Linked DNA regions of Homo sapiens. The protein of the gene in region 1 interacts with the protein of each later gene in a biochemical or structural test. Each region holds a gene or a part of one and is shown on either strand. Other genes may lie near its edges.

Evidence for each region.
Region 2: the proteins of TDRD3 (region 1) and FMR1 form a complex in vitro, tested with the Homo sapiens proteins (one study listed by BioGRID).

Annotation. Positions count from the first base shown.
Region 1 is NC_000013.11:60,399,575-60,408,204, reverse strand, and holds part of TDRD3 (tudor domain-containing protein 3), read right to left. Parts: intron 1-8,630. UniProt on the Homo sapiens protein: Scaffolding protein that specifically recognizes and binds dimethylarginine-containing proteins. Plays a role in the regulation of translation of target mRNAs by binding Arg/Gly-rich motifs (GAR) in dimethylarginine-containing proteins.
Region 2 is NC_000023.11:147,914,512-147,921,918, forward strand, and holds part of FMR1 (fragile X messenger ribonucleoprotein 1), read left to right. Parts: intron 1-7,407.

The DNA.
Region 1 (8,630 bases):
GGCGGGAGGTGAAAGGCACTTTTTACATGGCATTGGCAAGAGAAAATGAGGAAGAAACAAAAGTGGAAACCCCTGATAAACCCATCAGACCTCCTGAGACTTATTTGGGCTTACAGTTCCACACGGGTGGGGAGGCCTCAGAATCATGGCGGGACGTGAAAGGCACTTCTTACATGGCGGCGGCAAGAGAAAATGAGGAAGAAACAAAAGCGGAAACCCCTGAAAAACCCATCAGATCTCACGAGACGTATTCACTATCACAAGAATAGCATGGGAAAGACCGACCCCCATGATTCAATTACCTCCCGCTGGGTCCCTCCCACAACACATGGGAATTCTGGGAGAAACAATTCAAGTTGAGATTTGGGTCGGAACACAGCCACACCATATCACTGAAGTGCTAAGCTGTAAGCAATTCTGAAATATCAAAAAGAAAAGAATTTGTTGCTATCTCATAAAACATCAAATGTGAAAGAAATAGTTCTGAAAACAGTTTCTACTAATATTACCTTGAAACAGAACATTTCAAAGACCCTAAAGAGACAGCTGGTTGTCTCGGGCAAAGAAATGTTATCAACATATTTCAAACTTTTCTTCTAACTAAATACAAACATATACCTTTAAGTGTATTATCTTCATTATCACTAGTTATATCTCTTAACAGTTGAATTCTATAAACAAGGTAGAAAATATCAACAAATAGAGAAAGCTTTCTATAACAGGCTATTTCCTGCATTTCTGAGGAGATCACATTTTTCATAACATTTTGTTTAAATTTCACAACATTCATTTCAGAAATAACAATTTTCTACTCTACAAAAAGCTTGAAGAAGTTTCATGTCCCTTGAGGACACAAAAGCAAAATGATGAATGATACCAAGACCAACTAAGATGAGAGTAACATTCATTCCACAAGTATTTAAGTGTCTACTGTGCACCTTACATCGTGCTAAATGCTTGGAATACTACAAAAATATGAAGACTTGATCTTTCCCTTACAGAAGCTTACAAAGTCATAAGGCATCAATCAAACTATCAATGTTATGGACACCTAAACTTAACATATGTCCCTATTTCTCTCTCAAAACAAAGCTTGAACTGAGTCAATTCCAAATTCATTATAAAATACTGGCTTAATTTATTTAGCAAGTTTTTCCATCAATACTTACATTTATTATTTCACATTAGGTATTTTACAAAATCCACCTTTATTAATTTTTAAACTCTTCATGGTCCCACTTAGAAATTTAATAAAATAAAATTTTGTTTTCTTAACATCTTCATGTAATATCCATGACAGACTGCCTTCTGAAAAGCTGCAGCTAAATTTTATTTGTATTTTATATATTTAGAGGAATTTGGGGAAAGATTGTGGGGAATTTTTTAAAAGACTTTCAGATATCTAAATTTATAAAGAGTGTTTTAAAAGGTGCTCTGAGTCTCCAATATCAGCAAGTCAATAAACTAACAGTGACCATATCAAATAGTCTTATCAAAGAACTCCAAAAGATATGTCCATTTTCTGTTCTTAGAAAACTCAATGACTTTATAATGCATTCTAAAGCTTTTTCCCCTAACTAGCAGGTCCTTAAAGGCTAATTCTCCTCTAAAAATGCTAAAATTTCTCAGTACTTGAACCTAGCCTCTTACTCAAAGCTTGGTTCTTACATCAGTACTGTCCAACAAATATAATGTCCACATATGTAATTTTAAATTGTCTTGTAGCCATATTTTAAAAAGTAAAAACAGGTGAAATTAATTTAATAATTATTTTAACAAAATATATTTTAAAGTATGATCAATATAAAAATTACTGAGATCCTTACACTCATTTTTAGTACTGTCTTCCAAATTCAGTGCGTATTTTACATTTATAGCACATCTGAATTTAGACTAGACATATTTCAAGTGATCAGTAGCCATATTTGTCTAATGTCCACCATACCGGACAGCTGCAGCCTTAGATGATCTTATCCATGCACCATTTCAATCACCACCTATACTGGAATGACTCCAAATTTATCTCTAGCCCAGTCTTCTCTTCTGAGTGCAAGATTGGTATTTCCTAATGCCTAACATCTTATTTTAGATGACTTAAAGGGACCTCACACTCAAGTAATGACCAACTTAACTCATGACCCAACCCCCAAAAATGCGACCGTCTTCTAACAGTCCCTAACTGAATTGTAATTGATTTGAGGATACAAGTCCAAAACCTAGAAATCAAGCCTTTAACAACTCCTGTGTCACATTCATGTCCAATCTGTCAAAAAGTCCTGTCCATTTACCTTCCAAATATCTGTCAAGTCGATCTGCTGCTCTCTATCTCAACCATCACCATCTATTTCATAGTCCTGCCCAGCTCCATTTTCTTCAGTCCAAGGATACTTCAAAACCATGATGTTATTCCCACCATAACCCTCACATCATGATTAAAACTATTCAACTGATTCCTATTGCCTTCAAAATAAAAATAAATCCTAACATGGCCAACAAGGTCCAAGCTATGTGACCTGTCCCTAGGTAGCTCCTAATTCCATCTCACTACACTGTCCCTCTGTCTTGCCCTCTAGCCACCCAGGTCCTTCAGATGTTTGTATTCACCATGCTCCCTAGTGCCCTATGACTTTTGCAGATGCTGTGCTCCCCTCACTTAGTCAGTTACCACTCATTCTCCAGATCTCAGGATAGCATTCTCTGACCACCATGAAAACACGAACTCCCCTTTAGTAATTCTGCTATTCTCTGACCACCATGAAAAGGCTAATTCCCCCTTAGTACATGCATTTGGAATGATGTCTCTTCTCCTCTCTAGTATTCTTTATAGATGCAGTATGTTTGAATATGTAATTAATGGGTTTTTTTTCTATAAGACTATATCTGACTATACTAAGAAAGTGCCTGCCACAATATGCTGTTTAAGAATTATTTGTTGAGGCTGGACACTGTGGCTCACATCTGTAATCCCAGGACTCTGGGAGGCCGGGACAGGTAGATCACTTGAGGTCAGGAGTTCAAGACCAGCCTGGCCAACATGGTGAAACCCTGTCTCTAATAGTCCTTTTTCATGCTGCTGATAAAGACATACCTGAGACCGGGCAATTTACAAAAGAAAGACATTTATTGGACTTAACAGTTCCACATGGCTGGGGAGGCCTCACAATCATGGCAGATGGCAAAGAGGGACAAGCCACATCTTATGTGAATGGCAGCAGGCAAAAAGAGAGCTTGTGCAGGGCACCTCCCATTTTTAAAACCATCAGATCTTGTGAGACCCATTCACTATCACGAGAACAGCATGGGAAAGACCCATCCCCATAATTCAATCATCTCCCACCAGGTCCTTCCCACAACATGTGGGGATTATGGGAGCTACAAGATGAGATCTGGGTGAGGACGCAGAACCAAACCATATCAACTAAGAATACAAAAATTAGCTGGGTGTGGTGGTGGGCACCTGTAATCCCAGCTACTCAGGAGGCTGAGGCAGAAGAATCTCTTGAACCTGGGAGGTGGAGGTTACAGTGAGCCAAGATCATGCCACTGCACTCCAGCCTGGGCAACAGAGTGAGACTCTGTCTCAAAAAGCAAACAGGGCCGGGCGCGGTGGCTCACGCCTGTAATCCCAGCACTTTGGGAGGCCGAGGCGGGCGGATCACGAGGTCAGGAGATCGAGACCATCCCGGCTAAAACGGTGAAACCCCGTCTCTACTAAAAATACAAAAAATTAGCCGGGCGTAGTGGCGGGCGCCTGTAGTCCCAGCTACTTGGGAGGCTGAGGCAGGAGAATGGCGTGAACCCGGGAGGCGGAGCTTGCAGTGAGCCGAGATCCCGCCACTGCACTCCAGCCTGGGTGACAGAGCGAGACTCCGTCTCAAAAAAAAAAAAAAAAAGCAAACAAACCAACAACAACAACAAAAACGAATTATTTGTTGAATGAGTGCATTGATGAATGTGCCTTGTTTTTTCCTTAGCCAAATATCAGAAGACACAATATTTAAAGAAAACATATACAGTGCCTTGTTTTTTCCTTAGCCAAAGAGCACAAGACATGATATTTAAAGAAGACATATACAAAAACCTTGCTTATACATCATCAGTACTGGAAAGGCTTCCAACCTTCCCAAGTCTGGGTTAACTGCTCTCAGATGTGTTTCAACAAAATCTTGCAAGTAAAATAACAGTGTATATCATGTTTAAATTCTGCCTGTCTTGTACATCATAGCTCAGCAACACAGTGCTTTGTGTACAGGAGGTATAAATATTTACTAAATGTATTTCAGTGCACATATTATTGTATAGAGTTACATATTTCTCTGTATATGCCTTACTTATTATTGTAAAGATATTATAATTCAAGAGCACTATACTGCTATTTGTCTCTACTTTTAAGGCCATAAAATTGTACTACATGTGAAAAGTACATACACACACTCACATCCATCCAATAGAGATGTGAATCCTATTGGAGTTCCAGTGCTATGGTACATATAGGCTCTCTGTCTATGCAGTTCTTTCCTCCTTTTGTCCATCACCAACCTGTTTCTTTTCTGCTATCAGTGTCTTTGATTTCACACCCTTCTTAATACTTTACATTATTACCATACATTTTTGCCCCATCTTGTTTGCTTTTCTTTGCTGTGCTATGACTTCACAAGTGTTTCTCAAATTTTTACATGAAAATTTCTGGGCATTCAGTATTCTTCTTCCAAAATTTATCTGGCAATACTGTTCTTCGGCTACTTCTATATCCTAGACCTTTCAGAAAGAATGAATTTCTAGACTGATGGCACTTAACTGAAACATGATAAGTCAAAATGCCAATATTCTTTTGTCAAAAGGAGAAAACATAAGCCAAAAAAGTTGATATAGTCATATTTTTATGGTTCTTAAAATGTTACTATGCAATTTTAGTTGATTTAGCAAATGCTGCTGTATGAAAGGAGAAAATTATTTTCAACCTGCTGAGGTAGCAAGTTTCTTTTTATACCCCCTTTATGCTTAAGGCAGTCAAGTCTACAGGCAGTTGAAACTAGATTTATAGGTTAGTCACCAGAAAAAAAAAAAAAATCACTGCAAACAGCACCTTGAAACCTGAACACTTGCACAGTTTAACAAAACATCCAGTCATTTTTCGCAGTTTACAGTATCAGCAGAAGCTGTAAAGCAATATGTAACATATTTTGAGACAGAAAGTCGGCAAGGCTTATTACCTTTGAACATTTTCATTTCACAAACAATATAAGCCAAAGAGATAGTTACAAATGTTCATTAAAGAAATAGAAAATATTTCAAAATAGAAGGATGTCTCCAATAAGCTCCACTAAAATCTGATTAAAAAGCAATTGGCTAGCCAGGCGTGGTGGCGCATGCCTGTAATCCTACCTACTTGGGAGGCTGAGGCAGGAGAACCTGGGAGGTGGAGGTTGCGACGAACCAAGATCGCGCCATTGCACTCTAGCCTGGGCAACAAGAGTGAAACTCCGTCTCAAAAAAAAAAAAAAAAAAAAAAAGCAATTGGTTTCCTCTAATGTTCTTCAGCATCTAAAAAAGTGTTTTAATGATTCGAATCCTTTCCAAAAGAGTATACCAAGCTATTTATATCTGCCTGTCTTGTACATGTGACTTACTTTAAAGGCCATGAAGCATGGTAATTAAAGGTATATCATAATTCTAGATTTTAAAAACCCTGCACTTAATATTAAACCTTATAAAGAACTACCAATATTCTCTACAAATATTTACCTATTTCTAAGAGATGTACTGGAATGGTGAGGGAGCAAAACTTCTAATACCCTCTTATTATATGCATAAACTCATATTTTATGTCTATTACCACTAGTATAAGAAGGTATAATTACATTACTGCTACTGCAGAGGTTGTACTGATGCTGCTACACAATGTTTCTCATCTGAAGAGTGAGATCATTCACCAGCAATCTCCTGGAAAAAAGGTGTGTCTCTAAGAAAACTAGAACCAAACAAACAAAGGCACAGCAGTGGCTGCAGGCTGGGTATCTGAATTTCTTAGTCATGATCATTAATGTGTTTGAGAAGAAGCCTCTATGTAATGGAATGTGAAAAGAAGCCCTTCATCTGTGGACAGGTCAAAAACTAGGAATTAGAAATTCCAGCAAAATATCCTGAAGTTGTTCCACATCTTTGTAGTAGCTATCTTCAAAGTAATGTGGAATAGAGTGGGCCCTTGAATACAAGAGTGCAATAATCACTTTATAACCTATACTGTCATTATGCTTCTTATTTTTTTCTATTTATCCCATGGTTGTTTTCCAGTTCTACATTTTGACAAAGACCTTAATAAGCTGTAGGCTTTCTTAGTTGTTCAAAGGTGAAATGAAGGGAAAGGAGTTATGTATGCACTTGGGCCAGAGGATGTTAGCATGGTGATAGCACCAATAATCAAATGGAGATAACCCCAAAGGGGAAAGTGAAATTCAAGAGGTAAGAAGGAGACCTTTGTTTATCCTCTCCATCCCATCTCTGCCCTCAAAACAAACAAACAAAACAAAACCTGGAGTACTCCATGGCTAACACCTGGGTGTTAGAAAACTGGGCTTCCTAAGACTACATGTTCTTTCAGAACAAAATGGAAATGCTATTTCATATGCTACCTTAAAGGGTCTTCAACTCAAACTACTGGGTAAAAGAAGCAAAGACACACAATACAGTGTCCCACTTTTTCAGATACAGTCATCCCTCAGTATCCATAAGGGATTGGTCCCAGGGCCCCTACAGATAACAAAGTCTACTGATGCTCAAGTCCCTGACACAAAATAGTGTAGTGTAGTATTTGCATATAACCTACACACATCCTCCTGCATACCTGAAATCATCTCTAGACTACTTAAAATACCTAATACAGTGTAAATGCTATGTAAAATTATATTTTATTTTTTATTCATATTATTTTTGTTGTTGTATTGTTATTTTTATTTTTTTTTATTTTTCCAAATATTTTAGATCTGTGACTGGTTGAATCCAAGGGTGCAGAACCCACAGATATGGAGGGCCAACTGTATTCTTAAACCTTAAAAAATACAGAATTTACCAGATTTTCAGATAAGCCTAGTACACAATTAGTTGATTCACTGCAAGGCAAAGATTTATTTGATTCTAATAGGATCACCCCTCAGAATAAGCCCTTTATCTTTCCTGGACTAGGAAAGTAAATTTACACACCACAAAATGCTTCAACCCAATTTTCAATTTTTAAATGTGTCACTTTTGATCAATAATTTAAATTAGATGCGGTCACTTCTGTTAATTTTTGGTGGAAATGAGTACTGAATCTTTATTCTAGACATCTGGGCTCTATTCTTGGTTCTGCCATTTATAACTCTGAGCAAATTATTGAAACTCTCTGTGCTTCAGTTTCTTCATATGCACAGAGAGAGAGTTAAGCTATGCAACATTAATTCCATGGAAGACACTTTTTTTTTTTTTTTTGAGACACAGTCTCGCTCTGTCGCCCAGGATGGAGTGCAATGGTGCAATCTCGACTCACTGCAACCTCCGCCTCCTGGGTTCAAGCGATTCTCCTGCCTCAGCCTCACCAGGTAGCTGGGATTACAGGGGCCTGCCACCACGCCTGGCTAATTTTTTTGTATTTTTAGTAGAGACGGGGTTTCACCATTTTTGCCAGGCTGGTCTCCAACTCCTGACCACCCGCCTTAGCCTCCCAAAGTGCTGGGATTACAGGCATGAGCCACCACTGCGCCCAGCCAGAAGATACATTTTCAAAAACAAAAACACAACTGATTAGGTACCCCGTGACAGGTTTCTGTTAAAAACAAACAAACAAAGGAGGAGATGGAAGAGAAAAATTCAAAATGTCCAGAGATCAACATTTTGAATCTTTCTCCTGTGAGTAGAATTTTATATTTCCACTCACAGTGATCAGGGATATCATCCTAAAGGAGAATGAACCTCTGAAGAGAGAAAACAAAAATGCAGAGTGAGTAAAATTGTTATCTAGATAAATTCAGAGTCAAATTTCTTCTCCCCGTGAAGTTATTCCATGCATATAATTAAGCTTTACAAGGTACCATTTAGTGCATTATTTAAACATTATCACTACTCTGTAGAAAGCCCTGGAACATTCAAGTTCAAATCAGCAAAATCTAATAGTTTGTGTGCTACTGGCCATTGAAGAACAAAAATTATTTTAAGTCCGCCAGGTAGCTACTTTTGAAGTTATATTTTAAAATACTGATTTTTATAGGGGTTCTAATGAAGATTAAAACCTTAAGAAGGAAAAAAACTGCGCTTAAAAATAATGTAAACTTGAACAGATTGGTCTACATAGATCTTCTGTACCCCCCTGAAGATCACATTTTCAGAATTGTAAACTTTTCAGCACTAAATATTTCCCTAATCTGCTATTTTAGGTGAAGCCTATAGAACAGATTTAACAATAGTGTGTCCATGTTTTAGCATCTACTTCTTTTTAGCTTCTACAAGTAACTAAGTACATAGATTTGAATACTAAGAAAAATGGTTTGTCAGTGACAGTTAACAGAGAACCCCAAGTGTAAGAGCAAACTCAGGATATAAGAACTAAAATGAGTTGGTGAAAGCCCTTCAGTCAGAAATTTTCCCTCCAGTGCTCT
Region 2 (7,407 bases), on another chromosome or scaffold:
ATAGAAAAGCTTTTAAAACTAAACAAATCAAACAACTTGAGTATAATGGAATTCAGACTTTGATTTGCCTAACATAACCACCATATTTGCAAGGACAGCTCTCTATCTTCTGGTGTTTATTCTTAAAAACTTAAAAGTTAGATTTAGCGATCACCAGAGCCACTACTTTTATGCTTAGGTATTTGTTTGACTTAGAAAAAATTGGTCACGTGTACCACTTTATAGTGCCCTGCAGGTGTTAAGATATGAAGGCACTTTGACTTACACCTCATAAAATCTTTACAAAGTATTTTCTAAATGAATAATGATGAAATAAAGTCTTTATTCTAGGTGCATCTGCCCCACATAATTTGTTTTCTTTGGACTAGAAGTTTTGATGTGTTGAGAATGGTAATGAATTAACTCCATTTTAAATGTAGAATGCGTATCACTCCAATATGAATGCCCTAATGAATCCTAAGATTTGTAGGTTTTGTGTACTAGTATGAAAATTACTAAAGATGGAAAAATCACATGTTGGAGACATAAGATACAAACCTTTTTGTTTTCTGAAAATACAACCTCTGATTTCTGATTCCTTGTTGTAATATGGTGTAATTATACTAGATTGTAATTTTGTTGTTAGATTATACTTTTTTAAGTTCAGTGTTTGAGGACAGACTTTCATTTGGTTAGTAGTATTATGGCAGCTAGCAGCTAAATATGATAAAGTGTACAATCAAAAGGATATTTTTAATGAAGATATTAGTGGTCTAACATGTCATTTCAGATACATAGCTGAAATGTAGTAAAATCAGTTTTACTACAAATAAACTTGCATAAGGTTTATAAATTTATAAGTTTATAAATCAACTTGGGTAAAGTGTAAATAAACTTGCACTCGTGGTTTCTCTGAAGTCTCCTGAGCTAACTTTGCATAAAGGTGTTATTCTGTACTTCGAGGAAGTGAATTATTGGGGTCAACCACATTTTTTTTCCTTCCTACAGTCTGATTGCCCTTTTTAGTTTTTAGGATCTTTGTGGCTGCATCATTTTTCCCCTTTTGAACTGTGCATTTTCTAACCCCATACTTAAATATTCTCATAACCTCCAAATTATTAATTAGATGCAACATTCAGTGGTATATTACTGGAGTTTCTGATTTCTGCCCACTATAGGAATGTGCTTCCTGAGAAGATTGGGATCGTGATTATAATAATAGTTAACAGGGGATGAGTACTTTCTAGGTGCCAGGCACTGTTCTCTCTGATACTTTATTTGATGTATTGTTGTTATTCCCATTCTTTAAATGATGCACAGAGAGGTTAGGTAAGTGACTTACTACCAAGTGTCAGGGCCATTAAGGGTCAGGATTCTGAATTCCTGAAATGATGAAATTTAGCTTGAAGAAATTGGTTTGATTTCCTGCTTAGTTTTCAATTTCATGGTGGTCTTTGATTGTATTTTGTGCTATAACACTGCCTTAGCATCCTATAACTATAGTTACAGTGTTATATTACCATTTTTTATTGTTAATACAAAGCCATCATGAAATAATTCAGTTTATGTGCCAGCTTTTTTTGTTACTAATTCTTGAACCTTGGCGCTGTACTTCTTCATGTGGATGCCTGTTAAGGAAAGATAAAGTTAGAAATCTTTGACCCTGCTAGGAAATTTGTCTTTGTTATATTGGGAGCTCATAAAACTGAAGTATTCAAAAGTTAGAATACATACACACAAGAAAAATTAGTAACTAATTTAATAATGTTTTCTTTGCACATGTCTCTGTTGTCTTTTGGTCAGAGTGAAGCTAAATGTGTTTTTCACATAATTTGTAGCCTATATGAAGTCCTGGACATGTGGTATGGTTGGAAGGACTGTTGATGAGGTTTATTGTCTCTCTTTATTCTTTTATGTTGTTAGTGTCCCCATACAACGGGGCGGGGGGAGTGGGGACAAAATGATAACTTGCTTTATATATGAAGCCTTGGGTTTGAATCATACTGTTATCACATTTCCTATGTCCCTATCCTGTCTCCTGCAGGTTTTCTTTCTTGGTTTTCTTTTTTGGTTTTCTTTCTTCCTTTCTTCCTTTCTTTTCCTTTCTTTCCTTTCTTCCTTTTTTCTTTCCTTTTCTTTTTTCCTTTCTTTCCTTCATTTCTCTCCTTTGCTCCTTTAGTTTGTTTCTTTGTTTCTTTGGTTTGTTTCTTTGTTTCTTTGGTTTGTTTCTTTGTTTCTTTAGTTTGTTTCTTTGTTTCTTTGTTTCTTTCAACAGGTCTCACTGTCGCCCAGGTTGGAGTGCAGTGGTGGGATCTCAGCTCACTGCAACCTCCACCTCTCGGGTTCAAGCCAGTCTCATGCTTCAGCCTTCCGGGTAGCTGAGATTACAGGCATGTGCCACCATTCCTGGCTATTTTTTGCATTTTTAGTAGAGATGAGGTTTCGCCATGTTGGCCAGGCTGATCTCAAGTTATCTGCCTGCCTCAGCCCTCCAAAGTGCTGGAATTACAGGCATGAGACACCGGGTCCAGCTTCCAGCAGGTTTTCTTTAGGAGGGATATTTTACAATGCTGTAAGTTTTTCCTAACGAGAATTATCATAGCACTACATGTTCTGTCTTCAGTAAGTGATACAAGCTTACTGATGATGTTGTAGTTATGTTCATTGGTGGTCGGGTGTACATTGAAACTTTAACACATAATAGCCTCTCCTGTGAGCAGTGGTTCCTGTTGGTAAGATACTTTACTAAGGGAAGGAATGTGAGGTGTCGCTGGGGAGAGTTTACCCAAATAAGGATGGACTTTCTGTCTTTGTTTCATCAGTCCTGGTAATAGAATGTTTGAATAGATAGCTCTAGGCATTACATACTTTCATAAATATGATTATTGTAATTACCTCTTTGGCCCAGTTGCTAGTAAATTAGGGACCCCTTAATGATTTATTTCCTGTTTATTCACCCTGATGAAGAACTTGTATCTCTTTTAAACTGTACTTTATCGCCTTTCTCAAATTCCAAGATTCTCATCACATTTTTTTTCTTCCCAAACTCTAAATAACCTTTTAATATTAAGTATCTTTGTGGAAACATTGTTTTCTTTTTCTATCCCAATTTTTAAAGCTTTTTTAAAAAAAAGAGTGCTTTTGTTGGGATGTACATTTTCCAAATGCAAAAACATTTATGATTCTGTGTCTCTTATAAAATATGACACTCTCTACTTTTCTCTCATTTATTTAGTGCCACCTATGTGTGTAATTTCATTACCCACAGCAGTCTTAGGAGGCTGGTCGAGTTCCTTATTTGCAGATGAGGAATCTGAGGTCCAGAGATCACTTCTTGGTGAGAGTCTCACAGCTATTAAGTATTAGAGCCAAGATTTTGAACGTAGGTCTGATTCACAGCAAAACCGTTAACCACTAAGTACACTGACTCCAGTAAGAGCCCTAGTCCTCACCCAATACACTTTAATTCCCCTGTGCATTCATTCAAATTCATTGAATTTGCTGCCTTTGGAAACCTCTCAGGAACCTCCTCAACCTCTCTTCTCTACAGACATCAGCTTTGCCTGATAGGTAGGGATCATAGCAAAACACAGTTTTCCAAGGTGGTGATAGGTGGAGTGATAGTGCTCTGGAGATGGCCAAAGAAGGAAGGTATGAGTGTATCTGTGGGTGGGTGAGTGGTGGATAAGGGGAAGGACAGAGCCAAAAGCGACGGCTATTGGAAAAACTATGATGAGAAACAGGAAGATGGAACCTTGTTGGAATTAGTGAAAGACCTTAGAATTCACAGGAGGTATTTGTCCTTCACGCGAGTGTAGACCAAACGTAACCTATGAGTTTCTTTTATTCCACTTATTAAAGCAGCAACCAAAGGTATTATATACCTTCTGTATTCACTTAAAATGACTGATTTTGAAAAAGTCATGCAAACATCCATTTACAGATAAGCCTCATTAACTCAAAGGCAGTGGCCCTGTTGGGCTCTGATGATTACTCAAACCATTTCTGACACTCTGACACTACATCCGGAAATCATCCGGAAATGCATTCAGAGCCTGCAAAAGCTTTTTTTTTTTTTTTTTTTTTTTTTGAATAGCTACAGCACTTGCAGATCTTCCTCCTTTGAGAGAATATTTGATTTTAGGAAATAAGCAAATGTAGATAAGTATGATTCAACTGGGCAATAACTTTTAGGCAAAGAGAAAAAAACAAAATATAGCAATGTAGTAATAAGGCTGATATTATAGTGCTTTTATGATGAGTCTGAAAACAGTCTCCAACATTTGTAAATGTTTTAAATCGGGTCTGTCTACTACAGTAGCCCTTAAGCCATATGTAGCTATTGAGCACTTGACATGTTGCAAGAGTGAATTGGAGACTGATTTTAATTTTATTTAATTTTAATGTAAGTAGTCGCACATGACCCGTGGCTACTATGGTAGATGGCATAGTTTTAGACAAGGGCAGTAGTCTTGGGTAGATACTTGATTTACTTAGAACATTTCTTTACCTAGCTGTAACAAGGTTCTAATAGCTGATTAAAGGACAACATTTTTAGCATGTAATATACAGTAAGGAACTAATGTTAATTACTGCCAAGATGTATAAACATTATGAAACCTTAAACAAGGATGAACACAGAAGCAGTGGCCCTTCTTTGTAAATAAGGGGTCAGTTACTTCCTAATAGGTGTCTTAGTTTTAGTTAATAATCTAATAGCACCCCCAAAAAGCAAACTGTTAATTTGTTATTAGCCATCCTGTAAAGACAAGGGAGAAATCGGGGCCAGGAGAGTCCTCTTTCCCATTCTCCATAATTTTTACGACCTATAGAAATAAGAGCCTAAGAGTGACCAGTTCCTGCAACCTAACTCAAAATTAGGCCTCTCTGTTGAAGTAATAGTGAGGCAAACAATCCCTTGAAGCACTGGGGCATGCACCCTTATGAAATCTAATAATTCTAAAATATCATTGGCAGTATTAAGCTAGAGTTCTCAAAATATGCTGTAGAAAATATTGGTCATTTAAATATAGCTGAGTAAAAATAAGCAAGATCAAAATGATAAGAAAATGTTGATTTCTCCCCTTTTGAACCAGTAACTAACTATAAGGGTATATACCCATGCTTAACTTAAAAATAATTATTTAGCCACCTTGGGTATAGCACAACATATGGATGCCATTATAGTCCACCTTGATCTTACAAGGAAGCTTTCTTTTAGCGTAGCTTTACTTTTATTTAAGCATTATTGAAGAAGCTTGGTATCTCTGTTTAAGTTGCTTCTGTATCAGTGTTTTCCAGGGCCCTGTCTCAGCTTCCATAGTTTTTCTTAAGAGCAGCTAATTAATGCTTCACTCCATATGCTTTAATTTGATATTTTGGGAAGTTTCATTTTTTAAAATAATCTTTTTATATCATAGGCCTTTGAAGACATATTTGTTTACAAAGACATCTGCATTGAACCATTTGTTTTTAAAAACATGTATCGGGCATGTTCTATATACCAGAAACTATGCCATTTACTGAGGACACCGAAGTTAGAGAATGGTCTTAATCCGAACTAGTTATTGTCTCACTATCCAATATGGATATCAAACATTCAGCGTCATGAGGATTTACTACTGTGTTTTCTCCCAAGAGTTTTATAATTTTAGCTCTTATATTTAGGTCTTTGATGCATATTCATTGATTTTTTTTTGTATGCAGTATGAGGTAAAGGTTGAAACGTATTCTTTTTGCATGTGGGTGTCCACTTGTCCCAGCTTCATTTTTTGAAAACACTATACTTTCCCCATTGAATTGTCTTGGCTTCTTTGTTGACAAAGGATTTATTATTTCTGCCACAACCCAGCTGTTTCTCACTGTCTAAACCTTTATGCCTGCTGCCCCGTAGGCTTAGTGGAATGCCTCTCCATCCTCCACTCTCTTTTGTTTAGCTAGTACTTCCTTATCCTTTAAGGGGTCAGTAGGAACCTCACCTTCTTCAGTATGTTTTCCTTTGTCTTATCAACCTACCACCATCACCCACACACATACCTTTTCCCTAAGGCTGGGATAGGAACCTCTTAGGCAATGATCTATTTGATAAGTACTCACTGAGTTCATACTAGACACTCTGCAGTATATCCGTAAATGAAGTAAAACCTGACACCACCCTCAGAAAACTTACTGTTAGTGAGAAAATGGGCTATAATAATAGAGTGGGGTAAGTTTATTGTAGGGATAAGCATAGGATGCTATGAGAATGCAGAGGACAGGAATTTAACCTAGACTTCTCAGTTCTCCCGTTGAAGTTGACATCTGAACTGAAATCTGGAAGACCAGTAAGAGATAGCTATGTAAAAAGAGGGGAAGGACAATAGGAAAGAAGGAATGGAGAGAGGCCCAGAAACTACAGAGTATGGCACAAGTAGTTTAGCATTGTTGGGTCACAAATTCTAAGGATATGAAAGATAAAGTTGAAGAAGTGGTGGGGCTGGGGAGGACAGCTCCTGTAGAGCCTTTTACAGCGGGAGAAGGAGTTTGGCTATGGTCCTGCAGGCAGGGAGAAACCACTGAAGGGGAGAAACATACAGAATAAATTTGAGTAAGAAGCTTAAATCTCCCCAAGCCCTTTTAAAATAAATTAAGATATAAAGCCTTTGGGTTTCTTTATGCTTTGTCCTATTCTTCTAATTGTCCAAAACAAAACAAAAACCTTCCTTTTCTGTACCTATTAAAAGGTTAATTTTATAAAGTTACAGACAGCATGCTGATTAAAGAATTCTTGATAATTAGCTATTTTGTCTGTCTTTGTGTAGATTACTAACAATTGTGTCATCAGATTTAAAAGATCTAAACCTCTGGACTTTATATATTTTTTCTACAAGTACTGTGAGATTGAGAACTTAATTCAACTCTAGTAACTGGACTTTTTAGTGTTGTTTGCAGCATATGATTGTTAAAGAAAGTTTAGTATATTTGTGTGTGCGTATATATATATATATAGATAGATAGATAGATTTGAGGTTATATTTAATCATTGACTATTGGTATTCTAAGATTTTAAGGAGAGAAAGGTAGGTTACAATATATGGCTGATATATGGTTCTGGAACAATTTTCTTAGTTTTCAGTAATTCTACCTAAAATGTACGTCCAGCTTTGCACTCACTACCACATTGTAATTTCCAGTATACTTGTCTATTTTTCGAGATGTTGAAATCTGTGGAGAATTTTTTCTCATGTTTAGTGTTTTAGCTATGTTTATCTCTAGGGTATAGCACATACAAGGTGGCAATATAGATGTGCTTAATGAATAAAATGATCTTCAAAAACTGACCTTCATTTGAAGTTCTATTTTATTCATAAACACATAAAACGTTTGGTATCACTGTAAAATTTAACTAAAAACAAAAACTATCTTTAAGCTCACAAGTTAATTTAACGT